Regions from separate parts of the Homo sapiens genome. Here all the other regions are linked to region 5. The links come from fine-mapping of genetic effects on gene expression. A gene starts in region 5. Each other region holds a variant in brackets. All regions are shown on one strand. Distances are from middle to middle.

Evidence for each region.
Region 1: its variant is fine-mapped to the expression of PARP14 in whole blood (TOPMed, PIP above 0.99).
Region 2: its variant is fine-mapped to the expression of PARP14 in whole blood (TOPMed, PIP above 0.99).
Region 3: its variant is fine-mapped to the expression of PARP14 in whole blood (INTERVAL, PIP above 0.99).
Region 4: its variant is fine-mapped to the expression of PARP14 in whole blood (INTERVAL, PIP above 0.99).
Region 6: its variant is fine-mapped to the expression of PARP14 in whole blood (TOPMed, PIP above 0.99).

What each region holds. Positions count from the first base shown.
Region 1 is chr3:122,719,561-122,724,629 of GRCh38, forward strand. PARP14 (poly(ADP-ribose) polymerase family member 14) reads left to right here. Exons shown (of 17, transcript NM_017554.3): 15 at 695-828. Among named protein-coding and RNA genes, the nearest start is that of PARP14, 41 kb to the left of the region's middle. The variant T/C (reference allele first, on the strand shown) is at 1,955.
Region 2 is chr3:122,913,006-122,918,081 of GRCh38, forward strand. It overlaps SEMA5B (semaphorin 5B), which reads right to left. Exons shown (of 23, transcript NM_001031702.4): 13 at 2,768-2,885; 14 at 2,435-2,616; 15 at 853-996; 16 at 529-676; 17 at 194-419; 18 at 1-56. Among named protein-coding and RNA genes, the nearest start is that of LINC02035, 29 kb to the left of the region's middle. RefSeq lists an enhancer at 335-835. The variant G/A (reference allele first, on the strand shown) is at 1,957.
Region 3 is chr3:122,734,669-122,739,744 of GRCh38, forward strand. No RefSeq gene overlaps it. Among named protein-coding and RNA genes, the nearest start is that of PARP14, 56 kb to the left of the region's middle. The variant A/G (reference allele first, on the strand shown) is at 3,044.
Region 4 is chr3:122,748,555-122,753,630 of GRCh38, forward strand. It overlaps HSPBAP1 (HSPB1 associated protein 1), which reads right to left. Exons shown (of 8, transcript NM_024610.6): 6 at 4,037-4,120. LOC124906363 (small nucleolar RNA U13) reads left to right here and starts at 1,818; the gene lies at 1,818-1,921. The variant A/T (reference allele first, on the strand shown) is at 2,511.
Region 5 is chr3:122,678,681-122,683,756 of GRCh38, forward strand. PARP14 (poly(ADP-ribose) polymerase family member 14) reads left to right here and starts at 2,159. Exons shown (of 17, transcript NM_017554.3): 1 at 2,159-2,390. The coding sequence starts at 2,204. RefSeq lists enhancers at 1,147-1,266, 1,670-2,442, 1,867-2,266, 2,808-2,897, 4,283-4,362 and 1 more and a silencer at 2,507-2,556.
Region 6 is chr3:122,757,844-122,762,919 of GRCh38, forward strand. HSPBAP1 (HSPB1 associated protein 1) reads right to left here. Exons shown (of 8, transcript NM_024610.6): 4 at 1,381-1,517. Among named protein-coding and RNA genes, the nearest start is that of HSPBAP1, 33 kb to the right of the region's middle. The variant T/C (reference allele first, on the strand shown) is at 1,983.

The DNA of each region.
Region 1 (5,069 bases), 41 kb after region 5:
TTCGAACCAGATTAAGTCCCCTTTGAAAATGAGTAAATTGGCTTCCATTACACTATATTTATCTCCTGTGAGATCAGTGTGAACAGATTCCCGAGACTCTGAGCAACCCTGGGGAAATGATAAATCACATATAGTATTCTGCTTAGCAGAGGAGAAGACAGAGCTGTCACCACAGCTTGTCACATAGCAAAATCTGCCACCTAACTGCCTCTTAAAGATGCTATGAAGAATAATGAAAAAATAGATGTAGAGTGCCTGTGGTGGTGATGGTGAGGAGTTCTGGCAAAAATCCATGCACAAACAAAACAGCAACTACTTAGAACACTGTAGGGAAATAATTTATTGTGAAATTGTGACTACTAGAGATTGAACAGAAAACACAGATGAGTTATACTGCACCAACAGTTCTCAAATCGTAGTATGATCCAAACTTAGGAGGCAGACATACAGGCTCTGCCCCTCACAGATGCTGATTCAGTTGATCTGTGGCTTTCCTTTTTTTTGTTTAACAAGCATTCCAGTTGGTTCTGATGTAGGTTGTCTGTTGTTCATGCTTTGAAAAGCGTTCTCCTAGAAAGATAAGGAACTCTTTGAATGCTTAGAATTGGGAGATAGTAAAACAAGAACACAGATACTAAATGTTCCAGAGTGTACCGGGGATGTATGAGGGCATCCTCAAATGTCTCCTTTGCAGTTGACATCCCTGCACACTGGAGTGATATGAAGCAGCAGAATTTCTGTGTGGTGGAGCTGCTGCCTAGTGATCCTGAGTACAACACGGTGGCAAGCAAGTTTAATCAGACCTGCTCACACTTCAGAATAGAGAAGGTAAGCCTTCTGCTAGAATGCAGTTTCTGGATGGTGGAAATAAGTTCTGTCATGGTCCTATATAAAATCCATTTTCATTCACTTCCTATCACATTTTTTTAAACCCAGAATTAGAATTTGTATGGTAATTAGTAGTTCTAGATTCTACTCATGTGACCATAATTACTGAGGCATTAAGATTCTTGTGTCAGTGATTACAATATTTGATTGTAATATGATAGAACACTAAAGACATATATTTACTTTGTGAAGCAAGCTAATACAAATTCAAAGATATGGCTTTAAAATTGGATTTGATAGCTAGCAAATTCCACAGAGAGCCATGCAGAGGCTCCTTAGATCAGGACCATGTTACTCTGCCCCATTATTCACAGATCAACAGTGCTTCCTTGATAAAGCCAGCAGGCCTTTTCTCGTTTATCATAATTATTTTGGGCAGGTGAATGTGATGATTCGTGCCTGTAGTCCCAGCTATTGGGAGGCTGAGGTGGAAGGATTGCATGAGCCCAGGAGTTTGACGCCAGTCTGGGTAACATAGTGAGATCCTGCTCTCAAATAAAAACAACCAATTATTTTGGCATCTTCTTCCATTTTTAAACATTTTTGATATTGCTGTTTGAAATTATATTTTCCTTGACTTCTCTAGCAAAATTATTATGATTTTTTTTTCCTTGACTAATTTTCTTTTCATTTTTGCAGGCACGCTGTTTCTCTTCCAAACCCCTAATTCTAGCTTTATTCACGCCATTTATGCTTAAACGGTCTTTTGTCTCTGTACCTCACCAGGGAATATATTTACCCTTCTTGGATTCAACTATTAGTTCAATGTCAATAGCTCCCAAATCAACATTACCAACCTGGGTCTTTGACTCAAGCTCTAGAACATACTCCCAGTGGCCTAAAAAAATCTCCACTTGAGGCTGGGCACAGTGGCTCACGCCTGTAATCCCAGCACTTTGGGAGGCCGAGGTGGGTGGATCACGAGGTCAGGGGTTCAAGACCATCCTGGTGAAGATGGTGAAACCACGTCTCTACTAAAACTACAAAAATTAGCCGGGCATGTTGGCAGGTGCCTATAATCCCACCTACTTGGGAGGCTGAGGCAGGATAATTGCTTGAACATGGG[T/C]GGCAGAGATTGCAGTGAGCCAAGATCACGCCACTGCACTCCAGCCTGGTCGACAGAGTGAGACTCCGTCTCAAAAAAAAAATCTCCACTTGAATATCTAACTGCAAAATCAACTTCTCTAAAATCTAATGCATCATACGTAAGTAATTCTCTTTCCCTTTCCTTCCTCATTTCTGTTTTTGGTTCTACCACTTTCTGAGTAAAGCCGGAGATCTTTGATCCACCATAAGTCTGCCAGTAAGACCTACATTTTCTTTGCAAATTTTTCTTACTCTCTATTTGAACTGCCAACACTGTTTATTCATGTTGTTAAGTACATCATAATTTAAAAAGATTCAAAGTGCCCTACAAAGATATAAACTATACCTTCAGATAAAATAAATATACAAAGAAAAATGGTTAAAGAGAAAAGAATGGCAGGGAAAATAAGATAATACAGACGAACTGCTAGTTCTCAAAAATATATAACATGAGGTTACCAATTTGTCCCTGAGCTTCCTAGTAGACAAAGCAAGAAGTAAACATTCAGGTACAAGACTCATAATGTCCGTAAATCAAAAAGCAAACCATTTGATAAGGAGGCTCACAGCTCCTCACAATACTGAGACTGACTCCTGAGAGATTTCTCTTGTGGATCAAGTACTAGAGAATATCCTCAACGTCATCCTCACAATAAATTAAATATCAACTTTTATATCACTGTTTTTTTTTAATGTAAAACTGGTTGAACAAAACCGATGCCTGATTGAATGAAAACAATTCTATGAGGCACCAAGACAATATGATTCAAGTATGCAGCTCTATGATGGTCTATTTCTGAGATAACAAGTAAGTCTCACTCCAAGTACCAATTACTACTAACTGGTAGTGGCTGATTGGCACATTGTGATGAGATGCTAAGTTTAGATTGAGCAGGAATGAATGTTCTGCTTGACCAGCAATATCTACAGTGGGCCCTGTGGATGCCTGCTGTGTATTGGCAGACCCTGGCCAGAGAATTGATTTCAACACTTTTTTGCAGTGAAACCTTTTTTTTCAATAAAATCTTATGTGAAATCCCAGTGTATGAACCAGATAAAAGCAGAGGTGTGGGTAGTACTTAAGGTGCCTCCATGGAGGTCCCTAGAATTGTGAAAATAACATAAAAAATGGGTGGTCTGTCATCCTCTATGACTATTATGTCTTATGATTAAGGTTTTTAATATCCATAAGCCTTCCACTTAGATTCAACAATTGTGCCACTTTTGCTTTCTCTCCCTGTCTGTTTTTGCTGAAGCATTTGAAGGTAAGTTGCAGACATCATGATACTCCTATTTTAGCAAGTATCTCCCAATTAAAGACATTCTCCTAAATTATGGCAATGCCATTATCCCAATTAAAAACTTAACATTAATTCAGTAATATCCAATATGCATTTCATATTTTTTTTTTTTTTCCCCGAGACGGAGTCTTGCTCTTTCACCCAGGCTGGAGTGCAGTGGCGCGATCTTGGCTCACTGCAACCTCCGCCTACCGGTTGCAAGCGATTCTCCTGCCTCAGCGTCCCAAGTAGCTGAAATTGCAGGTGCCCACCACCACACCCGGCTAATTTTTTTTTGTATTTTTAGTAAAGATGGGGTTTCACCATGTTGGCCAGGCTGGTCTCGAACTCCTGACCTCAAGTGATCCCCCCGCCTGGGCCTCCCAAAGTGTTGGGATTACAGGTGTGAGCCACCACATCTGGCCACAGTCCATATTCTAATTTTTCCAGTTGTTCAAAAAAATCTCTTATAACTCCCCCTCCCCAACCCCAGTCTGAGTTCACACACGGTTTGGACATTATGTCTCCTTTGTGTCTTCTAATATAGAGTAGTACTCTTGCATTTAAAAAATTATTTTTCATGACATGAATTTTTTTAGAGTTTAAGCCAATTGTATTGTAGAATGTATCACATTCTGGATCTGTCATGCCTTGATTTTTGTGGAAGAATCCATGCCAGTTTTATAGATTCTAGACTTATCTGATTCTTGATAATATCATTTATTTCTCTATCCTCTTTATTTCTGGTAAGCTGAGTTAGGTTGAAAGGTTTGAGTAAATTCAGATAAATATTTTTTGCAAGAATACTTCATAGGTGATACATCACATCAGGAACCTCAGATGGTAAGGCCATCCCACTATTAATGATGCTAAGTTTGATCACTAGTTAAGTGGGTGACCACCATTTCTCTCCACTGGAATCAGTAGATTATCTGTGGGATGATACTTCGTCAGCATATGAGTATCCTGTTCCCCAACAATTTTGTACTGATTGACTTTCACTTCCATTGATGATCCTTGCCTGAATCCATCATTACACTGGAGGTTGCAGGATGTTGATTTTCTAATTCTGTCATTCCTTCTGTATATGTTATTTGGCATTTTTTTGAAGAATAAATGTTCTTTTTTCCTGATTTTGAAAAAAATCAGTATGTTATATTTAATTACAGTGATTATTCTGTTAGATGTACACATTATCCTCCATTTGGCTGGCAGGAAGTTGGGTCCCATGTCTTTTAATGACCCCATTAATCTTTGAGCATTTCTTTACTTTTTGCCATGAGATTTGTCTTGCTTATCCTGTACTTTCCTTGTCTCGTGCCTGGAATCAGACATTTTTCTAAGAAGCCATGTTACCTTTTAGTGGGGAATGGTAGTGAGAAACCAAAAGTCGTGTGTTGCGTGTGTTCACTGCTATTGAGGTGTTGCTGTTTCCAGGGTCTTTTGTGGCTAGAGCTAAGAAAATCATGAACTTGTATTTATGTTTTCTTTTTTTTTTTTTTGAGGCAAAGTTTTGCTCTGTCATTCCAGCTGGAGTGCATCAGCGTGATCATAGCTTACTGCAGCTTCCAACTCCTGGGCTCAAGCAATCCTCCCCACTCAGACTCTAGAGTAGCTGGGGCTACAGGCACATGCCACCACGCCTATTTTTTTTTTTTTTTTTTTTTTGTAGAGATGGAGTCCGTGTTATCCAGGCTGGTTTCAAACTTTTGACTTCAAAAGTGCTGGGATCCACCCACCTCTGTCTCTCAGAGTGCTGGGATTACAAGTGTGAGCCACAGCACCCAGCCATATTCATGTTTTCAATTAAAATTT
Region 2 (5,076 bases), 230 kb after region 5:
CCCGCTCACCGTGTGCGGGGAGGTGCTCCCGCTGCGCAGGAGGACCTCCACCAGGGCTGCGGAGGGGCTAGGCCTCAGCGACTGGGCGCCCGGCCACCCCGACCCCGGCCTGGGCCTCCCCGGGGCTCCCGCCCCCGCCCTCACCGCTCCGGGGCTGGGAGAGAGGAAGGAGGGGGCGCCGGGCGCGGGGTACCGTCGGTGTCGCAGGAGCCGGAGCCGTCCGCGGGACAGGTCCTCGTCTCGGTCCTTCTCCTGCCGAACTGCAGGCCGTGCGGGTCTGCAAGGGGCGCGCGGCAGGTGAAGCGGAACCGCTGCTCCTGCCGTGCCCCGCCCTGCGTCACGTTCACGGGCAGCCACGGCGTCCAGGGGGTGTTGCGCCGCACTTCGGGGCAGCCCTCGGGGTTGCACGTCTTGAACTCCTGCGGGTGGCGGCAGAGGCAGCTTTAGAACCCCACGGCCTCCAGGCCCGCCCTCCCCTCGGCTCCAGTACCCTACACCGCGCCCCTGGCCCACGGCCCCAACCCTCACCACGCCGCAGCCCAGGCAGGAGTTGCCGTTCTCGCAGGCCCGACGCCGCGACTGCATGCCCCCTCCACAGTTGCTGCTGCACTTGCTCCAGGAGCCCCAGGAAGCCCAGAAGATGGGCACCGGGCAAGGCGTGTTCTCATTACAGAACCTGGGGTCGGGGGAGAGGCGTCAATCCAGGGAGGGGGACCCCCTTCCCTGACGAGAGGTCCCTGGGAGTGCAAGACCGGAAAGGACGAGAGTCCCCGGGATCACGAGGAGAATCCAGGCCACTTTCTGGGGGGCCCGGTTAGTCTGGGACCTCAGAGCAAGCCTGTTCTCCCTCACCGTTCCTCCCGGCTCTTGCCCACGCAGATGCGGCCCCCGTGGCGGGGAGCAGGGTTGCTGCAACTTCGCTGGCGGACCTGGAAGCCGATGCCACAGGACGTGCTGCACAGCGCCCACGATGACCACGGGGTCCACGCCCCATTCCTGGCGGGGTGGGAGGGGACAGAGACAGATGCCCCTCTGAGCCCTAGCTTCTTAGATCTAGTCTGTCTCTGGGCCGATGTATTTTCTACTGCTGTCAGAAAGGGCTGGACAGTGACATAGAAATATCTTCTCCTAAACAGGTCATCTCAGGCAGACTCGCTCATCCATCCGTTCATTTATTCCTCCTTCAGACATGTATTGAGAGCCTTCTTCTATATATCATGCTGTGCTCAGGACTAAGGACGTAGAGGTAGGACATGGCCCCATCTCACAAGGGCCAAAAGGGCAGACTCTTTAGAGAAGAAGGCCCTAGTCCCCTTTCCAGTCTGCAGCCTCCCTTTCAGCCTTCCTGGCTGGTCCCAATCCTTGCACTGTAACCAACACTCTGTCCCCTGTACTATATTGCACATGCTTTGCTCCAGCCTCAGACACTGCTCACTCATGCCTACTCTGACGCCAATTTTCAAATCTGGGCTCTACCATTTGCTGGCTGTGAAACCCTGGGCAAGTTACTAGAACCTTCTGTAACTTAACTTTAAAGTACTCTTAACTTTAAAGTAAGGACAATGATTGTATTCCTACCCCCATGAGGTTGCTGTGAGGGCTACATTAATAAATGTGTATGAAATAGTTTTTTTAAGAGTGTCCAAGGCTGGGTGTGGTGGCTTATGCCTGTAATCCCAGAGCTTTGGGACGCTGAGGTGGGAGGAACACTTGAAGCCAGGAGTTTGAGACCAGCCTAGGCAATATAGTGAGACTCCTGTTTCTACAAAAAATTTTTAAAAATTAGCTGGGTATGGTGTGGGCACCTGTAGTCTCAGCTAATCAGGAGGTTGAGGCAGGAGATTACAGTGAGCCATGATCACACCACTTCACTCCAGCCTGGGCAACAGAGTGAGACGCTGTCTCAAAAAAAGAAAAAGTGTCTAATGGAGTCCCCAGGTACCAGGCACTGTGCAA[G/A]CTCTGTATATACCTTATCTCATTTAACCCTCCCAACAACTCTTGGGTGGGTACTATAACCCTCACTAAGAGAAGCTTAGAGTGGTTAGGTGGCTAGGCCACGGCCACACCTCCAGACAGTGGCAATCCGGAATTGGCACTAGATTTGCTTGCCTTGCCATCATCCCATGCTGTTCCTCATGTTTGGGATGAGACTTACTGAGGCACGCTTTTGTCTAGGAGTGACCTCCATGCCTGCCCAGCATTCCACTTTGCATCAAGAGTCACCAAGAGATAGAAACTTCTCTCTCACTAGCGTGGAAACTCCCTCAGGGCTCAGGTTTCCTGCCTCAGATATTAGCCACCTATCCAGTCCCTAGCACAGCCCTGAAGTGGTTTCTGTCCCTTAGTGCAAACACCCAAGTGAGGGGTCCCCGTTTCCCTAGTTCTCCCCACCCTGGTCCAAGGCAGACACCATGTAAACCCTGTCCTCACATACCTGGAGCAGTTGGCGATGTGGATGGCTGGCCCCAGGCAGTCAAGGCCCCCACAGCGGGGTCGAGGGGAATCACAGGATCGAGCTCGACACAGGCAAGAGCCTGAGTTGTCCCCATCCAAGTGCTCACATGGTTGCCATGGTGACCATGGGCCGAAGCCCCCATCCCGTGTCACATTCCGCACCTGAAGACACACATGGGAGACAGTACCCCTATTACCCAAGCCAAGGGCAGGGAAGTCATAAGATCTCAGGGGATTGGGGGAATATTGGTGGGGAGTCATAGCCTGAATTGAAGGAGGGGTCTGAGATGGGAGGACACAAGGGGATTCTCACAGGACAGGCGGTGATGTTCTGGGTCCAGAGGCTCATGTTGGAGCTGTCCTCGAGTGTGCTGCAACGTTGCTGCTTCCCGTCCCAGCCACAGTACGGGTCCCGGGCCCCCAGGCATGCCCTGCCAGACAGACGTCCTGAGATTCAAGCCCACTGGCTTCCCAGCCTCACCTGCATCTCAGGAACACACGTGAACACTCCCCTCTGTGCACCACTTTCCATCCATTTGTCCTCCATGATAATAATGAAGTTCATTGGGCCTTTACTGTGTGTAAGGCATCATTTTAAGCACTTTATAAGCATGAATTAATTTAAATCCAGCACCCCAATGAAGTGGGTACTGTTATTATTCCCATGTTATCTGGGGGAAACCCAGTGACCTGACCCAGGACTCAAACCCTCATCCTCCAGAGACTGCACGTTTAAAAGAGACGGCACTGCTTTCCCCAAATATGGGTGCCCCATACTCCTCACCCACAGCCACAGGTGCAGATGTGGTTAACAGGAACCCAAAGAGGAAATGCCTCCCTGGCACATGCTATGATCATAGAGTCATAAAACATTAGAGATGGAAAAAGCCTTACAGATGGTTCTCAACCCTGGCTGCACATTAGAATCACCTGAGGAGCTTTCAAAACATACCAATACCCGAGCCCACCCCACTCAACACTCTCTAGGGGCGAAGTAGTGTTTAAAAGCTCCCTGGGTGATTCTAATGGGAGCGAGGCTGAGAACCTCTGGGATCCACTATACAACCTTTTCATTGTACCAAGGCAAGGAGATAAGTAGTTTCCCTGAGATCACACAGATCATAGGTGGTGGAGCTGGGCCCAGACCTAAGCTTTCTGACCACGCTTTTCCCCTCACACTTCTGCTTCCCACGGGAGGTTGTGTCTGATTTCACACACTGAATATGAGCCCATCCCTCAAAACACAGCGCAGGATCGGCAGACACCTGGGTACTGTCCATGGTCACCTGGAGCACCCACATGCTTGTGCTGCTTAGTGGCAGGAATCAGAGTCTAGTGCTTTAGCATCTTGAGAATGAGCTCAAGCTGTAGGCGGTCACATCCCAGTTCTCGGTTCCTCAACCCTGAGGGCTGGTCTCTCTACAGTGGCCCCAAAATGATAACTGGTTCACACACTGATGCATGCCCCAAATGCCTCCACTTCTCATAGTCCAGAGCTTCTTTCTTCTTTTTCTCCTTTTGATGTCTTCATGTAATTTTTTAACAGAAAAATCTAATCTCCACTAGTAGGACTTGAAAGGGGAGAAAAAGTCTGTGGGGATTATGGAATCAGGCTTTGCTATCCATTGCTAAGTACAGAGAGTATCCAATCCTGGTGCCAGAAGGAGGGTCCCTCCAACATTCAGCCCACTGCCAATCCTGGGGGATACCTCGATCCCTCTGGTTCCTGTCCCCAGCTTCCACCCCCTTCTGAGCCAGTCTGCTGAAGAGGGTCTGGAGAGAGCACTAAGCATGGGCTCAGAAATTGGAGGTTGGAAAACAGAAGAGGCTTTGGAGAAGGATGTACTGGACTGCAAAGAAGATGGAGCCTGGCGGGGAGTTCACAACATTCTGTGAGTTTGCAGGGGGATCTTCCCATTGGACAAAGGGGCCAAAGATGCCTAGGGCTAAAGAGATACACCAAGAACAAACGAAGAGCTAAGAGTTGCAGCTCTTGGCATCCCTGGGGTAGAATTTTTCTTATCTCTTGAAGCTTCAGGGAGAGTAACCTGTCAGGTGAATTCTTAACTTGCAGTGGGTTCAATAGATCATGTCAGGCCCCAGAGAAAAATGAGGTTAATTATACAAAGAAGAGGGTGGGGCTTCTCCTTGTCAGCAAAGGAGGGCAAAGAAGACAGTACTATCTGCTGCTCTTGGCCAACCCGCAGCCTCATATAAGCGAGGCAATCATGGGAGCCCGGTGAGCACACTGTGGCCCACCCAGGAATCCAGAATACTTAACTGTTGCTGGGGTATCTGTTTCCAGTTTATTCACTCAAGGACAATTTGGGTAAATTGTACAAGATAAATGTGGTCATATTTTCCTCTGGGATCAATGGTTTGATTTGAGGGTGTTTTATCAGTAGAGTCCATCAAACTGGACATCGTGGGACTACATGCAACACATGTACACAAGTAGTCCCAGCAACCTGTGGTTTTGAGACTCTGCTTACTGGCTGACATTGGGATCAAGAGGACTGCTAGCAAATTCAACCAATGAGAACTCAGCAAAGCCCACTCCTGAATTTATTTCCTTCAGCACTCAAAAAGGGGCATCAACCTCTTACAGGCAGCTTACGTGGC
Region 3 (5,076 bases), 56 kb after region 5:
GATCTCTCGGCAGAAACTCTACAAGCCAGAAGAGGGTGGGGGCCAATATTCAACATTCTTAAAGAAAAGAATTTTCAACCCAGAATTTCATATCCAGCCAAACTAAGCTTCACAAGTGAAGTAGAAATAGAATACTTTACAGACAAGCAAATGCTGAGAGATTTTGTCACCACCGGGCCTGCCCTAAAAGAGCTCCTGAAGGAAGCACTAAACATGGAAAGGAACAACCGGTACCAGCCACTGCAAAAACATGCCAAATTGTAAAGACCGTCAAGGCTAGGAAGAAACTGCATCAACTAACGAGCAAAATAACCAGCTAATATCATAATGACAGGATCAAATTCACACATAACAATATTAACTTTAAATGTAAATGGGCTAAGTGCTCCAATTAAAAGACACAGACTGGCAAATTGGATAAAGAGTCAAGACCCATTAGTGTGCTGTATTCAGGAAACCCATCTCATGTGCAGAGACACACATGGGCTCAAAATCAAGGGATGGAGGAAGATCTACCAAGCAAATGGAAAACAAAAAAAGGCAGGGGTTGCAATCCTAGTCTCTGATAAAACAGACTTTAAACCAACAAAGATCAAAGGAGACAAAGAAGGCCATTACATAATGGTAAAGGGATCAATTCAACAAGAAGAGCTATCCTAAATATATATGCACCCAATACAGGAGCACCCAGATTCATAAAGCAAGTCCTGAGTGACCTACAAAGAGACTTAGACTCCCACACAATAATACTGGGAGAGTATAACACCCCACTGTCAACATTAGACAGATCAACGAGACAGAAAGTTAACAAGGATACCCAGGAATTGAACTCAGCTCTGCACCAGGCGGACCTAACAGACATCTACAGAACTCTCCACCCCAAATCAACAGAATATACATTTTTTTCAGCACCACACCACACCTATTCCAAAATTGACCACATAGTTGGAAGTAAAGCACTCCTCAGCAAATGTAAAAGAACAGAAATTACAACAAACTGTCTCTCAGACCACAGTGCAATCAAACTAGAACTCAGGATTAAGAAACTCACTCAAAACTGCTCAACTACATGGAAACTGAACAACCTGCTCCTGAATGACTACTGAGTACATAACGAAATGAAGGCAGAAATAAAGATGTTCTTTGAAACCAACGAGAACAAAGACACAACATACCAGAATCTCTGGGACACATTCAAAGCAGTGTGTAGAGGGAAATTTATAGCACTAAATGCCCACAAGAGAAAGCAGGAAAGATCCAAAATCGACACCCTAACATCACAATTAAAAGAACTAGAAAAGCAAGAGCAAACACATTCAAAAGCTAGCAGAAGGCAAGAAATAACTAAAATCAGAGCAGAACTGAAGGAAATAGAGACACAAAAAACCCTTCAAAAAATTAATGAATCCAGGAGCTGGTTTTTTGAAAAGATCAACAAAATTGATAGACCGCTAGCAAGACTAATAAAGAAGAAAAGAGGGAAGAATCAAATAGACGCAATAAAAAATGATAAAGGGGATATCACCACCGATCCCACAGAAATACAAACTACCATCAGAGAATACTACAAACACCTCTACACAAATAAACTAGAAAATCTAGAAGAAATGGATAAATTCCTCGACACATACATCCTCCCAAGACTAAACCAGGAAGAAGTTGAATCTCTGAATAGACAAATAACAGGCTCTGAAATTGTGGCAATAATCAATAGTTTACCAACAAAAAGAGTCCAGGACCAGATGGATTCACAGCCGAATTCTACCAGAGGTACAAGGAGGAGCTGGTACCATTCCTTCTGAAACTATTCCAACCAATAGAAAAAGAGGGAATCCTCCCTAACTCATTTCATGAGGCCAGCATCATCCTGATACCAAAGCCTGGCAGAGACACAACAAAAAAAGAGAATTTTAGAACAATATCCTTGATGAGCATTGATGCAAAAATCCTCAATAAAATACTGGCAAACCGAATCCAGCAGCACATCAAAAAGCTTATCCACCATGATCAAGTGGGCTTCATCCCTGGGATGCAAGGCTGGTTCAATATACGAAAATCAATAAATGTAATCCAGCATATAAACAGAACCAAAGACAAAAACCACATGATTATCTCAATAGATGCAGAAAAGGCCTTTGACAAAATTCAACAACCTTTCATGCTAAAAACTCTCAATAAATTAGGTATTGATGGGATGTATCTCAAAATAATAAGAGCTATCTATGACAAACCCACAGCCAATATCATACTGAATGGGCAAGAACTGGAAGCATTCCCTTTGAAAACTGGCACAAGACAGGGATGCCCTCTCTCACCACTTCTATTCAACATAGTGTTGGAAGTTCTGGCCAGGGCAATTAGGCAGGAGAAGGAAATAAAGGGTATTCAATTAGGAAAAGAGGAAGTCAAATTGTCCCTGTTTGCAGATGACATGATTGTATATCTAGAAAACCCCACTGTCTCAGCCCAAAATCTCCTTAAGCTGATAAGCAACTTCAGCAAAGTCTCAGGATACAAAATCAATGTGCAAAAATCACAAGCATTCTTATACACCAATAACAGACAGAGAGCCAAATCATGAGTGAACTCCCATTCACAATTGCTTCGAAGAGAATAAAATACCTAGGAATCCAACTTACAAGGGATGTGAAGGACCTCTTCAAGGAGAACTACAAACCACTGCTCGATGAAATAAAAGAGGATATAAACAAATGGAAGAACATTCCATGCTCATCGGTTGGAAGAATCAATATCATGAAAATGGCCATACAGCCCAAGGTAATTTATAGATTCAATGCCATCCCCATCAAGCTACCAATGACTTTCTTCACAGAATTGGAAAAAACTACTTTAAAGTTCATATGGAAGCAAAAAAGAGCCCGCATCGCCAAGTCAATCCTAAGCCAAAAGAACAAAGCTGGAGGCATCACGCTACCTGACTTCAAACTATACAAGGCTACAGTAACCAAAACAGCATAGTACTGGTACCAAAACAGAGATATAGATCAATGGAACAGAACAGAGCCCTCAGAAATAATGCCAC[A/G]TATCTACAACTATCTGATCTTTGACAAACTTGACAAAAACAAGAAATGGGGAAAGGATTCCCTATTTAATAAATGGTGCTGGGAAAACTGGCTAGCCATATGTAGAAAGCTGAAACTGGATACCTTCTTTACACCTTATACAAAAATTAATTCAAGATGGATTAAAGACTTACATGTTAGACCTAAAACCATAAAAACCCTAGAAGAAAACCTAGGCAATACCATTCAGGACGTAGGCATGGGCAAGGACTTCATGTCTAAAACACCAAAAGCAATGGCAACAAAAGCCAAAATTGACAAATGGGATCTAATTAAACTAAAGAGCTTCTGCACAGCAAAAGAAACTACCATCAGAGTGAACAGGCAACCTACAGAATGGGAGAAAATTTTCACAACCTACTCATCTGACAAACGGCTAATATCCGGAATCTACAATGAACTCAAACAAATTTACAAGAAAAAAACAAACAACCCCATCAAAAAGTGAGCAAAGGACATGAACAGACACTTCTCAAAAGAAGACATTTATGCAGCCAAAAAACACATGAAAAAATGCTCATCATCACTGGCCATCAGAGAAATGCAAATCAAAACAATGAGATACCATCTCACACCAGTTAGAATGGTGATCATTAAAACATCAGGAAACAACAGGTGCTGGAGAGGATATGGAGAAATAGGAACACTTTTACACTGTTGGTGGGACTGTAAATTAGTTCAACCATTGTGGAAGTCAGTGTGGCGATTCCTCAAGGATCTAGAACTAGAAATACCATTTGACCCAGCCATCCTATTACTGGGTATATACCCAAAGGACTATAAATCATGCTGCTATAAAGACACATGCACACGTATGTTTATAGCGGCACTATTCACAATAGCAAAGACTTGGAACCAACCCAAATGTCCAACAACGATAGACTGGATTAAGAAAATGTGGCACATATACACCATGGAAAACTATGCAGCCATAAAAAAGGATGAGTTCATGTCCTTTGTAGGGACATGGATGAAACTGGAAATCATCATTCTCAGCAAACTATCGCAAGGACAAAAAACCAAACACTGCACGTTCTCACTCATAGGTGGGAATTGAACAATGAGAACACATGGACATAGGAAGGGGAACATCACACACCGGGGCCTGTTGTGGGGTGGGGGGAGGGGGAGGGATAGCATTAGGAGATACACCTAATGCTAAATGATGAGTTAATGGGTGCAGTACACCAACATGGCACATGTATACACATGTAACAAACCTGTACATTGTGCACATGCACTGTAAAACTTAAAGTACAATAATAATAAAATGAATGAATAAATAAATAAATAAATAAAGGACTATACCAAGAATCACAGCTACCTTACTTTGGCCACATTCTCTGTCCCAATGTACTTGATGAGGTATTGTCAATGAGGTCTCATTTTTATTATTCATTCATTCAAATATTTAATAAGCACCTACTACATGCTGGGTACTCATTGCGGCTCTACAAATAACAGCAATAATCACAGTCCCTACCCTTAAGGAGTTACATTTTGGTTGAGAGAGATAGTAATGAAATTCATAGGTAAATACATAGTGGTCCGATGGAGATAAAAGCCACAGAAGGGCTCTTTTCAGGCCCTTCTTTCCCTGGCATGCTTACATAACAATACCCTCCTTCCCTCTGTGACAACACATACTTTCTTTGGATTTACTGATACTCATTACCTCGAGGACAGTAGGATAGCCAGCAATCAGTTCATCTCAAAGGTGACTTTGCATATCTTTTCTGTTGTGTATTTGTTTCATGCATGGTTACTCAGAGATCAATATGCTTTTCTAATTTCTAAATTCCTTCTTAGACAGTAATGGTAATTAATTATCCCTGGATCTTGCAAATGTAATGAGAGTGGGATCAATTTCACTGAGCTAAGCCTTTAGTCACTGTTTGGGGAGTTTGAGTCCTTTTTAGCCCTAGGATTGGTGTCCCTAGATGTCCAAGTTCCTTGCCTAAAGAGGCCTCATACTGAACCCACAACTACTTTT
Region 4 (5,076 bases), 70 kb after region 5:
TTATGACTCAAAAACAATAAAGTTCAACAACAGATTTTGTTGGTGAGGCTGTGGAGGAAACAAGCACTTTCACATACTACTAATGGAAATGCAAAATGGCACAATCACAATGAAGCTGAATTTGGCAAAACCTAACAAAATTAAAGATACATTTACCCTATGACATGGCAAATCCATTGTTAAGATCTCCCCCAAAGACACACTTCAACAAATATAAAACAACATATGCACAAGGTTATTCAGTGGCATTATTTGTAATTACAAAAGACTGGAAACAACCCAAACATCTATCCTTAAAGGAACTAATGAACAGTAGAGCACCCATACAGTGAAGTACTAGACAGTGGTTGAAGAAAAATATGAATATTTCTCTGTACTATTATGTAGTGAAATTCAAGATATTATTGTTGAAAAAAGCAAGGTATGGAACACTATAGTTTATTACTTTCTATGGAATAAAGGATAGAAAATTTAAAATATATTTGAATAAGTATATAAATAAGTAAAGACATATTTATATGCTTATGCACTTTGTACATATAAGACTGTTTATATACTTATTTACATATATAAATATATCTATTCATTTACTTACTTTTATATATAGATATAGATATATATGTTTACAAGAAACACTGGAAATGATAAACCAGAAATGAATAAAAATGGATCTCTATAAAGGTTGGGAAAAATGGAGTGGATGGAACAGGGATGAAAGGCAGACTTCCCTGAGTATAACTTTTAACATAGTTTTGACAAGTTAAATGTTCTACATATTTAAAATATTAAATTAGATCAAAATTTTAAAAAGGTAAATCCTAAAATTGAAAACAAACTGAAACAAATGAACTTAACTAAATATCCAATTAGTAAAATAACCATAAATGAAAAGAATTCCTTCACAATGACTCCTGAATAAAGGACTTTGTATCTATCCCTCTTAGTGATAGATACAGTCTAATAATAAAAAGAATTGCAAAGAAATCTTAATTTTTACTTGCAAGCTTTATGGTTAGTAGTAATATTACTATTTGAATTTTGGAAACATAAATTTGACATCTTTTTCTTTTTTTGAGATGGAGTCTTGTTCTGTCACCAGGCTAGAGTGCAATGGCGCGATCTCAGCTCACTGCAACCTCCACCTCCTGGGTTCAAGTGACTCCCCTGCCTCAGCCTCCTGAGTAGCTGGAACTACAGGCATGCGCCACCATGCCCGGCTAATTTTTTGTATTTTTTTAGTAGAGAAGGGGTTTCACCATGTTGGCCAGGATGGTCTCAATCTCCTGACCATGTGATCTGCCCGCCTCGGCCTCCCAAAGTGCCGGGATTATAGGTGTGAGCCACTGCACCCGGCCAAATTTGATATCTTAAAAAATATATTGCTGGATACAGCAAACAAGTAAATATGTTACTGGTTTTCTTTCTTTTTTTTTTTTTTTGAGACAGAGACTCGCTCTGTTGCCAGGCCAGAGTGCAGTGACTTGATCTCGGCTCACTGCAACTTCTGTCTCCCTGGTTCAAGCGATTCTCCTGCCTCAGCCTCCCGAATAGCCGGGATTACAGGTGCGTGCCACTATGCCCAGCTAATTTTTGCATTTTTAGTAGAGATAGGGTTTCACCATGTTGGCCAGGATGGTCTCGATCTTTTGACCTCATGATCCACCCACCTCGGCCTCCCAAAGTGCTGGGATTACAGGCGTAAGCCACCGTGCCCGGCCTTATGTTACTGTTTTTAAGGACCCAGATTTTCAGTGTTAAGAGAAGAGATAAAAATACAGAAACAAATAAAAAATTCTATCATGTTAAACTTGAATTAGATACTTTTATAGTTCATAAGTCTGATGATTGGGTGTCATGCTCATGTGTGAGACATGCCTCCCTTAAGCCTTGTTATGACGTCAGCATATTACCTGTCTAGATATATTTTTTAAACACATGAATTAGAAATATAAATACATCAATATCTATCTATCTATCTATCTATCTATCTATCTATCTAATCTATCTATCTATCTCACATTCTAGCTACATCACTGAAAGAGCCTAGAAACACTGACACCCAGGAGCAATGAACAGATTTAGAGCTGAGATCTCAGTTTCTAAATGCCATTTCCTACAAAAAGAACTGTGGCTACCTGGAGAAATGATTGACTTCCAAGTGTGGGGCACTAAAGGAGAAAGGGTATCCTGGGATATCTTCCTGTGCCAGAAAGCCAGGATACACTCAAAGTCTAATTAACGGGGACATATCAAAAGGGCACAGGCCAGCTTGAAGTTTCACTAAAATGACAGATAAGACCCAAATTTAAAATTATCTTGTCAAGCTGGAATGCTCAACCAAACCAATATGATGAAAATTAACAGGGATGACTGTGAAATACTGGATTTAGAATTAAAATCAGCTTTATAGGTACAGGATAGGATTCAACCTGCCTGACAGCAGATCATGTGAAAAAAAATCACAGATATTTTAAAGTTGAATATGAAACTAAAGTGAGATGAGATTACTT[A/T]AAAAACTAACCCAATATTACAAGCAGCACTGGAGATATTTAGGATCGAGATCATGTGGGGTAGAAATCTTATACTCTACCAAATAAGGCCTACTGATATTCAGTTTTAGGCACTATATATTAAGAGAACTATTCTTGACATAATAGCTCTCCCTCCTCCTCATAGCAATTTCTACTTTTTAAACACTTCCCATATGCCACGCACTATATTAGATGCTTTTACAATGTGTTGTCCAATTACTCTACTGAGGTGGGTTCAATTATAATCCTCATTTTACAAGAAAATGGAGGCTTGAAGAGATTAAGTAATTATCTATGTTAGACAGCTAACAAAGGTAACCTGTATCTTAAAGTTGCCTGATTCCAAAGTCTATGGCCAGAATGGTAAAAAGTCTGGAAAAAGGAAAAAATCACCCATAAAAACACCCCATTAAAGAAAGTAAGAGGTTTTGAGCATGGAAGAAGAAAAGATTATGGAAAAACTTGGAGGTATTTTCAAATATTTTAAAAAGATGACAGCTCTACTCTTTAACAACAAGCGAACTTCCTTGGGAGGTGAAGCACCTGTCAGGGCTATTGTAGATATGACTTTGGCATTGGGAGTGGAAGTTCTCCATGGATTCTACCTTGACATCTGCTGCAACTCCAGTTCAGCATGCTATAGGCGAAATTTCTGTGACGCTACTGATCTCCTGCCATACCTCTCACTTAAGCCTCAAGGGCTACAACTCTTCACTAAGCCCACACAACATAGCTTTCTGTAACAATATTCCTTCTGTTCCACTGATTCCAAAGCCATTCCTATTAGCAAAGGATAGGAAAAACTAGACTAGGGAGAGGATACGGCTGTCAAACAGAGCAGAAAGATGCAATCCAGGCTTCAGGTCAAGGAGAGCAGAGATGCAGTCAGGGCCTCTGGTTAAAGAGAGGCAGCTGCAATTAAGGCCCCAGTTGAAGAGACAGACTTGAGCATAACAAGCAGCTATTCTAATTGTCAAATAGAGCAGGCAACCAGGATTAAGCTTAACACATCAGAGGGAAAGGCTTCTGGCAGAAATGAAATGATAAAAACCTAGCACTGAAAGAAAGACTCCGCTTTGAGAATATGTAGAAGCCAAGACAGAATTCTGCAATTAGTAATGACCCTGAACCAAGAAGCAGGTATTTCCAGCCCAGATGGTGTGAAAGAGGAGCGGCAACAAGGGACACATATCGGCAAATCTGGCCAGGCCCAATACAATTTTCCTAACAACACTGGTCAAGGGAAAGGACCCTGCATGCCAGCATCAGGCGCATTCTGTGTCCTTAAAAGAAAGAGAGTGGCACACCACTAAAATTCCAATTTCCAACCTAAACATCCATTAACAGAAGACAGAATGCATACGTTATAGTGCACTGCAACAAAAAAATACTGAAGCATTGGTTAAAAAAAATTAATTACCCAGTTGTACAGCCAGACCTTATATATCTTTTAAAAGCATGATTTGCACTTACTTAAAAAAAAAAAAAAAACAACGAAAAAGTACCAGTTCAATCCATGAGTTTATACTGACAGTGACAGGATCAATGGATTCTACGTAATGCCACCAGTGTCTGGGAACAAAGAGAACCTGAAAACCAAACAAAGAATGGTTAGCACAAGAACAGGACGTTTCATTTTTATGTCAGAATCAGACCCTAATTGAGGCTGCTAGGAAAAAAAGGAATACAAATGAATTCACAATAATATTGCTGGAGAAAAGTAAAGTAAGAAAAAAAACCCCGCAAACCTTTTTTCCTTTTATTCCTTTTTTATTGACAAGTTCACATGTTCTACAAAGGATACTGCCAGCATCTCTATTCTCTTTAATCCTGGGCCTTCTTTGTCTGCACCTAAATCTTAGTACATGATTCTGAGATTCTAATTTTTCCTCCTTTCCGTCACAAAATAGTTGCGTGCATTCTGAGAAAGGGCATAGGTAAAACACATAGGACGTGGCTTCTGTTTTCTCACAGCTCAAAATCTAGCCAATGAGAAGATAAAGTATAGAAAGGTGGCATTATAGAAGTGGTAAATCAGGGGACAATGGTGTTTCAGAATTTCAGAGGTGGGTGAAACAGGCATGAACTAGGGAGGTCAGGGGCAACATGGATGGAAGAAGTGTGATTTGAACCCGGGCTAGGAGAGAATTTAGACACAGAAAGAATGAGGACATGCCAGGAAGGATAAGAGGTACAGGTGAGGGAGGTAGGACTACAGAAGATAGCAAGTAGGTCAGTCTTACTATCACAGAGGGAATAATGGGAGATAAGGTAGGGGAATTAGTTTAGGGACAGCGGACTTCAGAATCTAGATTTTATCTGGTAGGCACTAGGAGTTGTTGAGAAATTCTAAGTAGGGGGATGGTTAAAATAGTGGTATCGAGAGAGTCTGAGAAGGACAGGAGATACTTGCAAAGGTCCACTTATTAAACGTTAAGATATAAATAGGAAGGTATAATAAACAAAAGCAATGGGCAGAGTCAAGAAGGATGGCATCTATCCAGACTCAGTATGAGATTTCCTATTAAGAGCAGAGTAGATGGAA
Region 5 (5,076 bases):
CATTAAGATGAGCTGTAGCTGTGAAGTAGAAGGAGAATCAAGGAACACGGCCACTTCTACAGCAGGCCACCCCCACCCCAGGCCCTGAGAAGACACGTGCTTCCCAGGAAGAAAGGATCAGAAGGCAGATACCCACAGGAAACAGAGAATTGTGAGAGGATACGCATTCTTCAAGTGAACAAGGCAAAAATAACTTGCAGAAAACAAAGTACTGCAGGAGCTAATGCCGTTCAACAATTTGCCCCTTCTAGAACTTTCTTTCCTTGGCTTTCAAGACCTGCCATCCTGATCCTCTGATAGCTCCTTCCCAGTCCACCCAGGCATGATAAGCAGACCTCGGTGGTAAGACACATTGTCGATAATTAAATAAATCCTCGAAAGTAATCCAGAAATGCCTCTGACTTTATTTCTTATACAATAATTATGTGAGGAAAAAGGGAAACTTTTTGCTGAGTTCTGGAACCCCAAACTCAGGGGAGAGTGGGAGAGGAGGAGTGCTGATTTTAGTTGTGGTTTGGGATGAGATGTAAAGGCCCTGGGGAGAAACAGTCACCAAGTCTGGCTGAGGGCGCTTGTCCTCCCGTCTTCCGCATGCGGGGGTCCAGAGCAGTTTTGGATCAGATGATGAGCGCCATCTGCAGGTAGCAAGCTGGAGGCAGGAGAAAATATCTGTGTACTGTTTAGGATTATTACAGAGCCGAAATAAAAGCCAGGTAAACCATTTGGCCCATCTCTGGTTCTCTTCATTCTGAAATTCAGCCCGATCCTGTAACCCCACAACCTACTGCCTGGCTCCTTCTTCCCCTTCACGGTCACATTTCTGCAAAGAGCGTGTTACGCTCTCTGCTTCCACTTCCTTCCCTCCCTTTCAGTCTTCAGTAGCTGCCATCTCCCTCTCCTCCCTCCTCACCAGGAGACTATGCTTGCCGCTCCTCAGCAGTCCAGCAGACACTTCTCTGACCTGAGGTATCGGTAGCACTGGAATGATAATCCCCCCGCCCCCCTCGACTTGCAACACTGCTTTATTTGGGGTCAAGGAAACACACAGCCCCAGCTTCTCTCCCATCACTCGGCCTCCCCTCTTGCAGATGCCACTATTATCCAGCCACTTGCACGGGCCATCCATGGCTGACCATGGAGTCATCCTTGAGCTTCTCCTTCTCTCAAGGCTCACATTCTTCAGCAAGTCCTGCTTTCACTATTAATTGAGAATCCTCGTTTTCTCAGTTCTTCTCTGCCAGCACCCCAGTCTCAGCCACCCTTGTCTCTCACTTAGGACACTATGGTAGCCACTTGGCTGATCTCTCTGCCTCCACTCTAGCCACCACGCAGCAGCCGGAGTGATCCTGTACATGTGAATCACACCGTGGAACCCCACTTCCTAACCCTCCAAGGCTATCCCCTGATATCCTGGGGTTATCAGGTTACATGTCACCGCCCTATAAACCCTCCCTGAGCCGCCACAGCTGGACTAGGAGCCACTCCTCATCTGTTCCAGGAACACAAGTATATTCTTTCCCAGAGCACCTATTGCCCACTGTGTTCACCATAGCTCCGTGAGCTCAGCGAGGGTTCAGTGAGTGAGTGCATGGCGCCTAGTAAATATTCCACAAAAAAAACTGTGAGTGTAATTGTTTCCCCCACATTTCTAGACATGTAGTATTAACAGATCAAGGAACAGAAAGCAAAACAGGGAAAGCAACGTAAAATTCTGATAATCACAATGATTGCTGAAAAAGTCCCCAAATAGGCAGCAAACATTCTAAAGGGGCCACAGTTTGTGAGTCATTTTATTCTTTTGTAAAGGGTCGGCTTGCGGCAAAAATTAAATGATCTTTGCGTTTGGGCAAGGTCTGGTGCCCCAAAGCTGCCGACTTGATCTGCGGTTGGGGCGAGCGGCAGGTAGGGGGCCCGGAGTTAGGAGGGGGTGTGGGAGCCCGTGGAGCACAGGTGAACTGAGGCCGCCTTCCCGGGGCGCCGCTGGCCAGCCCCAAAGGGTTACTTTGGCCTTGGCTGTGGGCCGAATGCGAAGGTGGGGAGGTGGGCGGGGGATGACTCTGCCATTCCTGGGTCCGCTGTGTTAGGCTGAAGGCAAAAGGAAACCAAGGCCTGGGAGTTTTCCAGGAAACGAAAGCGAAAGAGTCAAAGTTAGCGGCCCGGAGTTGGCGCGGCCCCTGCAGTCCGGCGGAGAGCGGAGCTGAGGATGGCTGTGCCCGGCTCCTTCCCGCTGCTGGTCGAGGGCTCCTGGGGCCCCGACCCCCCGAAGAACTTGAACACCAAGTTGCAGATGTACTTCCAGAGCCCGAAGAGGTCGGGAGGCGGCGAGTGTGAGGTCCGCCAGGATCCCAGGAGCCCATCCCGCTTCCTGGTGTTCTTCTACCCGGAGGACGGTGAGGGGCGCGAGGGGTGGGGTGAGGAGGGGGCACCTCTGCCCTCCCTCCAGGGAAATGGCGGCAGGGCACGCACGGGAGGGTGACCCGCCCGACTTCGGCGGCTGCTGTAGCGGAGGTGGCCGGGGCGGGGGCGGGGGCGGGGGCGGCAGAATGGATTCCGAGCGCACCCGGGGCGCTGCGGTTCCCCGGCGCCCTGCGCTTCCAGGCGCTTAATGGCGCGGCCCGGAGGTGGCGGCGGAACCGCGCAAGTAACTCTTTATCCCTCGATCGTTTTCTGTCTTTCCCTGTTGTGGTGGTGTTATTGTTTGTTGTTGTTGTTGTGGAAGTGAGTCTATCCTCTTATCATCCTTTTCTGTCTTTTCCTGTTGTTATTATTCTTGTGTGGGGAAGGAAACTGATTAAGAAACGTGGCAAGTCACAGAGATTCCTTGTGGTTCTTGGAGATTCCCAGGGGTCCCGGGGTCACTTGGGAGAGGGGCAGAGGCGCTACCTAAAATCACACTGCCTGAATGTCAACGTAGAGCCGTCACAGCGGCCACATTGGAGGGGCTGTCGATCGACCACAGGTGCCCATTGTCGAGGGCCTGCCGGGGCCTCTTCTCCGAGTCTCTAGTGGCCCTCAGATTGGGAGCAAGGATGATATTCTGAAGTGATTGTGGGTTGGGAGATTTGAGCTTTGGAGGGAAAGTCGGCAAAGTTCCCTCCTTACAGACCCACCACTACTTGGTGGGCCAAGAGCCCAGAGGTGATCTGCTGGCTCAAGGGCCTCCCTGGTCTGCAATGGGAAGCCAGTGACCTGCAGCTCCCAGAATGGGCACCTTTTCCACTGGCATCTTATGGATGATGACCTATCGGGATCTAGTCAACCCCTAATTCCGCTTTCATGTCGCTAGATTTGGAGAAGCATTCGGGCCAGAGGAGAGGCAAGGAGGCTGAGGCTGAGGCCATGCAATTAGAGTGCCCAAGCAGGGATCCAAAAAGGAAAAATGAAACAGAAAAAGAATGGCGCACAGAAGGAAGGAAGGAGGGGGACAGGAGATATGCTTGGCTCATGGCCCTTATGAAAACAAAATACCATGTTTTCCTAGGATTAATTTTACCAAGGAGTGCTCAGAAGGGCAACTGTGTGATATTAGTCATTTCTCTTTTGGGTGTCACTTTTCCTTGAGGGTTTTCCCCACTTTGACTTCAGAGGTCAGCATCACCATCGATCTGGCCCTTAAGGATGCTTCTTTCTCCTTTAGATTCCATTATCCTTAGAAGTAGGTCTGACCTGCATCTGAATCACCTGGAGAGCAGGTTAACCAGGCACCTTCCCAGCTCTGTTTTAGAGATTCAGGTTCAGTGAATGTGGGGTGGGTGGGAAGCGTGTATTTAACCGGCAGCCCAGGTGACCCTAATGTGTTCAAGTTTCAGAATTTCCGTAGTTAATGTTAACCCCAAATGAACAAAAAGAAATAATTATACAAATTTAAACAGCATGAAAATACAAATAGCACAAAGTATAATTTTGTGATGATAAAATAACTCAATTCTAGCCCTCCAAGCAGAAAAGATTTCAGTCTTCCTGCTGGGCTTCCATCCTTGACCGGCCCCAGCCCACTACTCCTCTTCCTCCACCCCCAGGCTGCTCCAGTGGCCCCTCTTGTCTTACCCCCCAGCACAGATGACCCAAAACTTATTAAAACTCAAAACCGGCCGGGCGTGGTGGCTCACGCCTGTTAATCCCAGCACTTTGGGAGGCTGAGGCAGGTGGATGACGAGTTGAGGAGATCGAGACCATCCTTGAGCAACATGGTGAAACCCTGTCTCTACTAAAACACACAAAAAAATTAGCCGAGCGTGGTGGTGTGCGCCTATAGTCCCAGCTACTCAGGAGGCTGAGGCAGGGGAATTGCTTGAACCAGGGAGGCAGAGGTTGCAGTGAGGTGAGATCGCACCACTGCACTCCAGCCTGGCAACAGAGCAAGACTCCATCTAAAACAAAACAAAAACAAACAAACAAAAAGAAACAAACAAACAAAAACAAACTCGAAACCTAGTATGGTCTAAGTTCTTGGGGGTGGAAAATCCCTAGTCAGTTTCAGTTTCCTACTTGAGGAACCACTTTCTCAGTAACAAGGGTCAGGAATTTGCTAACAATGAATGACCTACGCTTGAAGTCCCAGAAGTGCATTCTTCTTCTGCAGAGGACACTCTCCACCCTCCATGCCAGGAAGTGGCCTCAACAGGTGCGGGCCCATAGCATAACCTGATTTGATTCATATAAACTGTAATAGGCAGATAACAAGAATGAGCCCACCAGCACTTCTCCGTATTTATTCATGTATAGCAAATAGAAACAAATGGGAAGCTGTATCTCACTTTTATATAGTTCACTGGATTTCTGAAAAGTTGGTGTAAATTGACATAACATTTTAAGCCCTGTTTCAGATGTGTCTATTTTATCATACTTTACCAACATAGTTTGGTTCCTGGTTGTTGTCGGGTTCCTTGTGGTAAGAACCCATCTTCTCCTTAAATAAAATTAAATGTTGATGATCTAAAGTTGGTGCAGGTGGAAGACTGTCCACTTGGGTAAGGGAGGTTGGACATCAGAGTTTCAGCTTTTTCCTCCCAGATTGACTTTCTCCTTTTTGGAGATCATATACCCATATTATTACCAACTGTTCTCCTGAAATAC
Region 6 (5,076 bases), 79 kb after region 5:
CACATGGACAGCAGCTACTTAAAATGTTGTCTCTCTTACCAAGTTTAAGGTTTCAGCCTGTTAACTCCACAAGGATAGAGACCACACTCATCTGATTGACTCTTGCATCCACAGCGTGTAGCTATGTACCTGACACATTCTATGCCCTTTAATAAAGACGGAATGCATCAGAGAGTGGACTAACTTCTACCATTCTGTAATTCTCAGAGTTCTTCACATGTGAAATGTATCCACAGACATACTGACTATTTCTCCTGAATCTGCTCATAATCCTTTTCACATCTAATAGGTCTGAGAACTTGCACATGACCTTTTCTGTTTTACTCTCTGTGCTGCCCTGTAAATGTCCCACATGACCAGGAGAAAAGACTGGGGCATCATTAATTAGGGGAAAATAAGGCTGCACATACATCTGAGTACATCCTCCAAGTGGCACAAACACTTAGACTCTCATAGAACTCCAGAAACCAGGTATATCAAAAGCACTGCCTATCCCTCGTATCTTCTAGAGTCCACAGATAGATGGAGACAAAAACTGACCTAAGGTAACAATACACTGTATTGTGTCAAGTAGGCACAAACTAAAATTTAGAGTTGAAAGCGTCCAGTATTTTTCAAACCAGGATCGCTGGCATCCCTTGGAGAGGAGCTTGAGGGCAACAGTGAAGCCTCTTCCTTTCAACAAACTGCTCTGCTCTTATTTATTTAGATTTGAAGAAAGGGTGTTCCCATTTTTAAATAAAAGTTTGAAAACTACAAACTCTTATGTAAAAAAGAAAAGCTAAGCATAGGCTGGGCATAGTGGCTCACACCAGAACTTTGAGAGGCCAAGGCAGGAGTATGGTTTGAGGCCATACTTGGGCAACACAGAAAGACTCCATCTCTAAATAAAAAGTTTTTTAAATTAGCTGGGCATACTGGCACACACCTGTAGTCCTAGATACTTGAGAGGCTGCGGCAGGAGGATGGCTTGAGGTCCAGGAGCTATGATCATGCCATTGCACTCCAGCCTGGGCAACAGAGCAAGACTGTCTCAAATGTCTCTAATTTACCAAAAAAAAAAAAAAAAAAAAGACCAAGCAGAGAGCTGTCTAGCTGACCTGGGAGTGGAATCTCAGAGTTCTAGAATAAACTCTCTGAAGACAATCCTGATCATGACAAGGCACGCACCTGTAAACCACCATTTTAACTGTCCTCATTTCACAGAGGAGAAACCAAAACCAGAGGTTAAGAGGTCTGCCCTAATCATGAGGCAGGCTGACAGGATGGGGCTGGGACTACACCTTGGGGTATTGCCCTATTCTCTCTGCCACCCCTATTGCATGCATGCACATGTGCGTTCCACACACACACACACACACACACACACACACACATTACCTTCCTTGTACCTGGAATACCAAGTTACAACCATAGGAGTCCAGATGACAGGGTGTGTGGGCTCCCAAGGAGCCAATCCACAATGTACTTTCCTGTCCATTTCTTCCAGGAAACCCGAAGTCAGACCATTTCACATCCTGTTTTGAAATAAAGTTGCAATCCATCAAGAACTAACCAACTTCTCTGTATGGTAATGCTGCCCATTTTCACTTGCACATCTGTTATTTAGCAGTTGGAATATTCTATTATGGAAAATGCTACAGATGGAAGAGGTTAGGTTTCCAGGGCAGTTCAAGAAATCTTTTTAGCCAATAACATATTTGAATAACCACACTAATAGTAATCATTCAACAAATATTTACTGACTACTTACAACATGCCAGGCACTGTTCTGGAAGCTTGTAATGAATCAATGAACAAAAGAGACAAAATGCCTACTCGGATGAAGCTTACATTTCAGAGTTGGAAACAGACAATAAACAGACAGGATTATGCTGATATTTAGGGAAAGCGTGTTTTGGGCAGTTAGAACAGTGAATGCAGCGGAAATGGCATTATTTCAAATATCTCTGAGACACAACCGAAGAAGTCAGAAAGCCGTA[T/C]TTCCTCTAAGCAGTGCAGATATTTGTGTACATACGCAACTTACTAACTTTGTGTACTTCAATGACCACATAAATGAAGACTTCTCCTACATTAGTGGGGTTACTTAAAACTATCAATGCTGGAGCCTTAGCTCATACCTACTAGATCAGTCTTCAGATGAGGGTGTCAAAATACATCTTTTGAAATATACATCCATGGATGGCTTTCAATATACTCCCCAAAGTCATGAACTTCTTAAGTGCAATGATCTTTAGAACAGAGACAGCATAGTGCTCTGGACTTAAGACTCTCCATATGCCTGGTTCTGTGAGCAAATCCTGCCCAAGTCAACTACTGGGAAAAGCCTATACTTTTAGAAGCCGATGGCGCATTTGCAGCACAGAAAAATAGGGTCACACATAAACCCAAATCCATGTGATTAAACAGATTTATAAGCTAGAAAAGAAAAAAAACATACTAGTGAACCAGGCATGATGGCTCTGCCTTATTTTTATTTTAATCATGAGGTTTTCCTTTCAGTTTTAAAAAATAAAAGCAAAAAAAAAAACACCCCACTTCTATGTGCAGAACATCGTTCTCAATGCTGACACTCCTTTTATCAGTAACTACAGTCTAAATTTTCTATTTTTAGAGGGAAAACATTAACAGCTGTATTCAAAGAGAAAGGATTTTAAAGAGAAATTTAATGGATGGTTTTGAGGAAGACTAGAAAGAGCATTTTTTTTTTTCATTTTTGCTTTGAGTGATGAAAATGGCTGAATACGTGCACATAATTAATGTCTGTCATAGAAGGGGGAATTTTTGCAAGGTCAGCACCACTGTAAATGCACATGGCTCACATGTGGCAGTTCCAGTGGGTGGCAAAAATCCTGTTCTCTCTGCATGTAGCCTATAAGCTCCATACTGGGAGCTTACCCCTGTTTTCTCAATGCCTAATTTAGTACCTGGCTCAGGGTTACAGCTTGGAACACACTGGCTGCTTGGGAGGGAAAGAAGAATCTGTTGACTTATGATGGTTAAAATAGTTCAGGCCAATGACATTTTTGAGTACCTACCATATACGTGGTATGATGCTGGGTGCTGGGGATACAAAAATTAATATAACACAGGCCAACCCTTCAAGTCTAATAATGAGTGATAATCCCATAAACAGAGCCTTTCAATATGATGTAACAAGCGCTCTGACACAAGTATGCAGGGAATGCTTTAAGATCACAGCAGGAGGGCCCTGCACCCAGCCAGGGAGCTTAGGGGAGGCTTCCAATTAACCTGGTCCTTGTTGAACAATTTACCACACCTCAGTCTGAGGAATTTAACTAAAGGTAGCTGAAAGCCATTCAGTATAAAAAGGAAAAAAGAGAGACTTGCCTTAGCTAAGAAGAGATAGGTCATGTGATTCTTAATCTTATAGATACATCCCTTCAGGAATCTAATGAATACCAAAGCCCCTTCTCCTCAGAAAAAAGCACACACGAAACTTTATATATACTTTCAAAGAGGTGACAGACCAACCCCACATGAAAAACCCTGTTCTAGAGCCCTGCTTTGGAAAGAATCACTGAAGGTTTTTCTACAGGGTGAGGTTACTGTATGAGAAACTGAGGAGAGACTTCCCTGGCCTCCTGTCTAACAGTAATAATGACTTAAAAAGCAAAACTGTCAGCCAGGTGCAGTGGCTCATGCCTGTAATCCCAGCACTCTGGGAGGCTGAGGTGGGAGGACTGCCTGGGTCCAGGAGTTCAAGACCAGCGTGGGCAATGTTTGGTGAGGCTCTGTCTCTACAAAAAGGTTTTTTTTTTTTTTTTAACAAATTGGCTGGGCGTGGTGGCATGCACCTGTGGTCCCAGCTACTTGGGAGGCTGAGAAGGGAGGATCACTTGAGCTTGGGAGGTCAAGGCTTCAGGGAGCTATGTTTGCACCACAGCACTCCAGCCTGAGTGCCTGAGTGACAGAGCAAGACCTTGTCTCAAAAAAAAAAAAAAAAAAGCAAAATTGTCAGTGTAAAAATAGACAGCATTGAGAGTTGGGATTCTCTTCCCAATTAAGTTCAGCCACTTATGGGTAGTCAAATGTCTGAAGTCAATGTGGGCCCAGGAATCTGTCTTGAGTCTTGCTAGAAACAGGAGGCCCTGTTTGAGTGCTGCATCTGTAAAACCAAAAAGGGTGATCAGTGGGGTGATCTGTTCTGGAGTCTACTCATACATACCTCAAGAGTTGGAAAAATCTTTAAAAATCATCTATTCTCAGCAAGTTCTATTCTACACCATCCCTGAAAAGAGCGACAAGTAGCTAGCTAGTTGACCACTTACTACAAAATCAGTATCTACTTCCTGGTAGCTTACAGAGGAGGGTCCTAGATCTGCTTTCTATAACTAAAGAGAACAAGTTTATTTCCTGCCAAAAATTGCTATTTTTATCAGAAAACTGTCCAACTTCTCCTTTATCTTTTTTTTTTTTTAACCTAGACACAGCAGCATTAACTTTTCCTTCCAATTGCTCTTCTCTCAATTTCCTTTACTTTGTCAACAGCCCTAAAGCCTGGCTCCCAAACTGAACCCCAGATACAGTCTACACAGAACCTGTATCCATGGAATTGTAACATTCCATGACCCGCACATCATACCATTAATGCACTGTCAGACGGCACTTTTCTTTTTAAGCAACTAAATTATACCAAGGCTAATATTGGGCCTCCCTGTCTCTTACTTGCAGACTGTTGCTTAGCATATCTCTTCAGCCTTGACTTATAGTCAAGGACTAGCCTAATATTTCCTAATTTTCCTTGTGATTTACTATTTGACTTATGGATTATTTGGAAGTGTAATGTTTAATTTCAAATTTTTGGGGATTTTTCAGCTATCTTTTTGTCATGAATTTTTAATTTAATTCTGTTGTGGTGAGAGAACATAATTTGTATGAGTTAAATCCTTTTAAATTATTGAAACTTGTTTTATGGCCCAGAATATAATCAATCTTGATAAAGATTCCATATGCACTTGGAAATAGTGTTTTCTGTTGTTGGGTGGAGTGTTTTATAAATGTCAATTAAATCAAGTTGATTGTTCAAGTCTCCTGTATCCTTACTGATTTTCT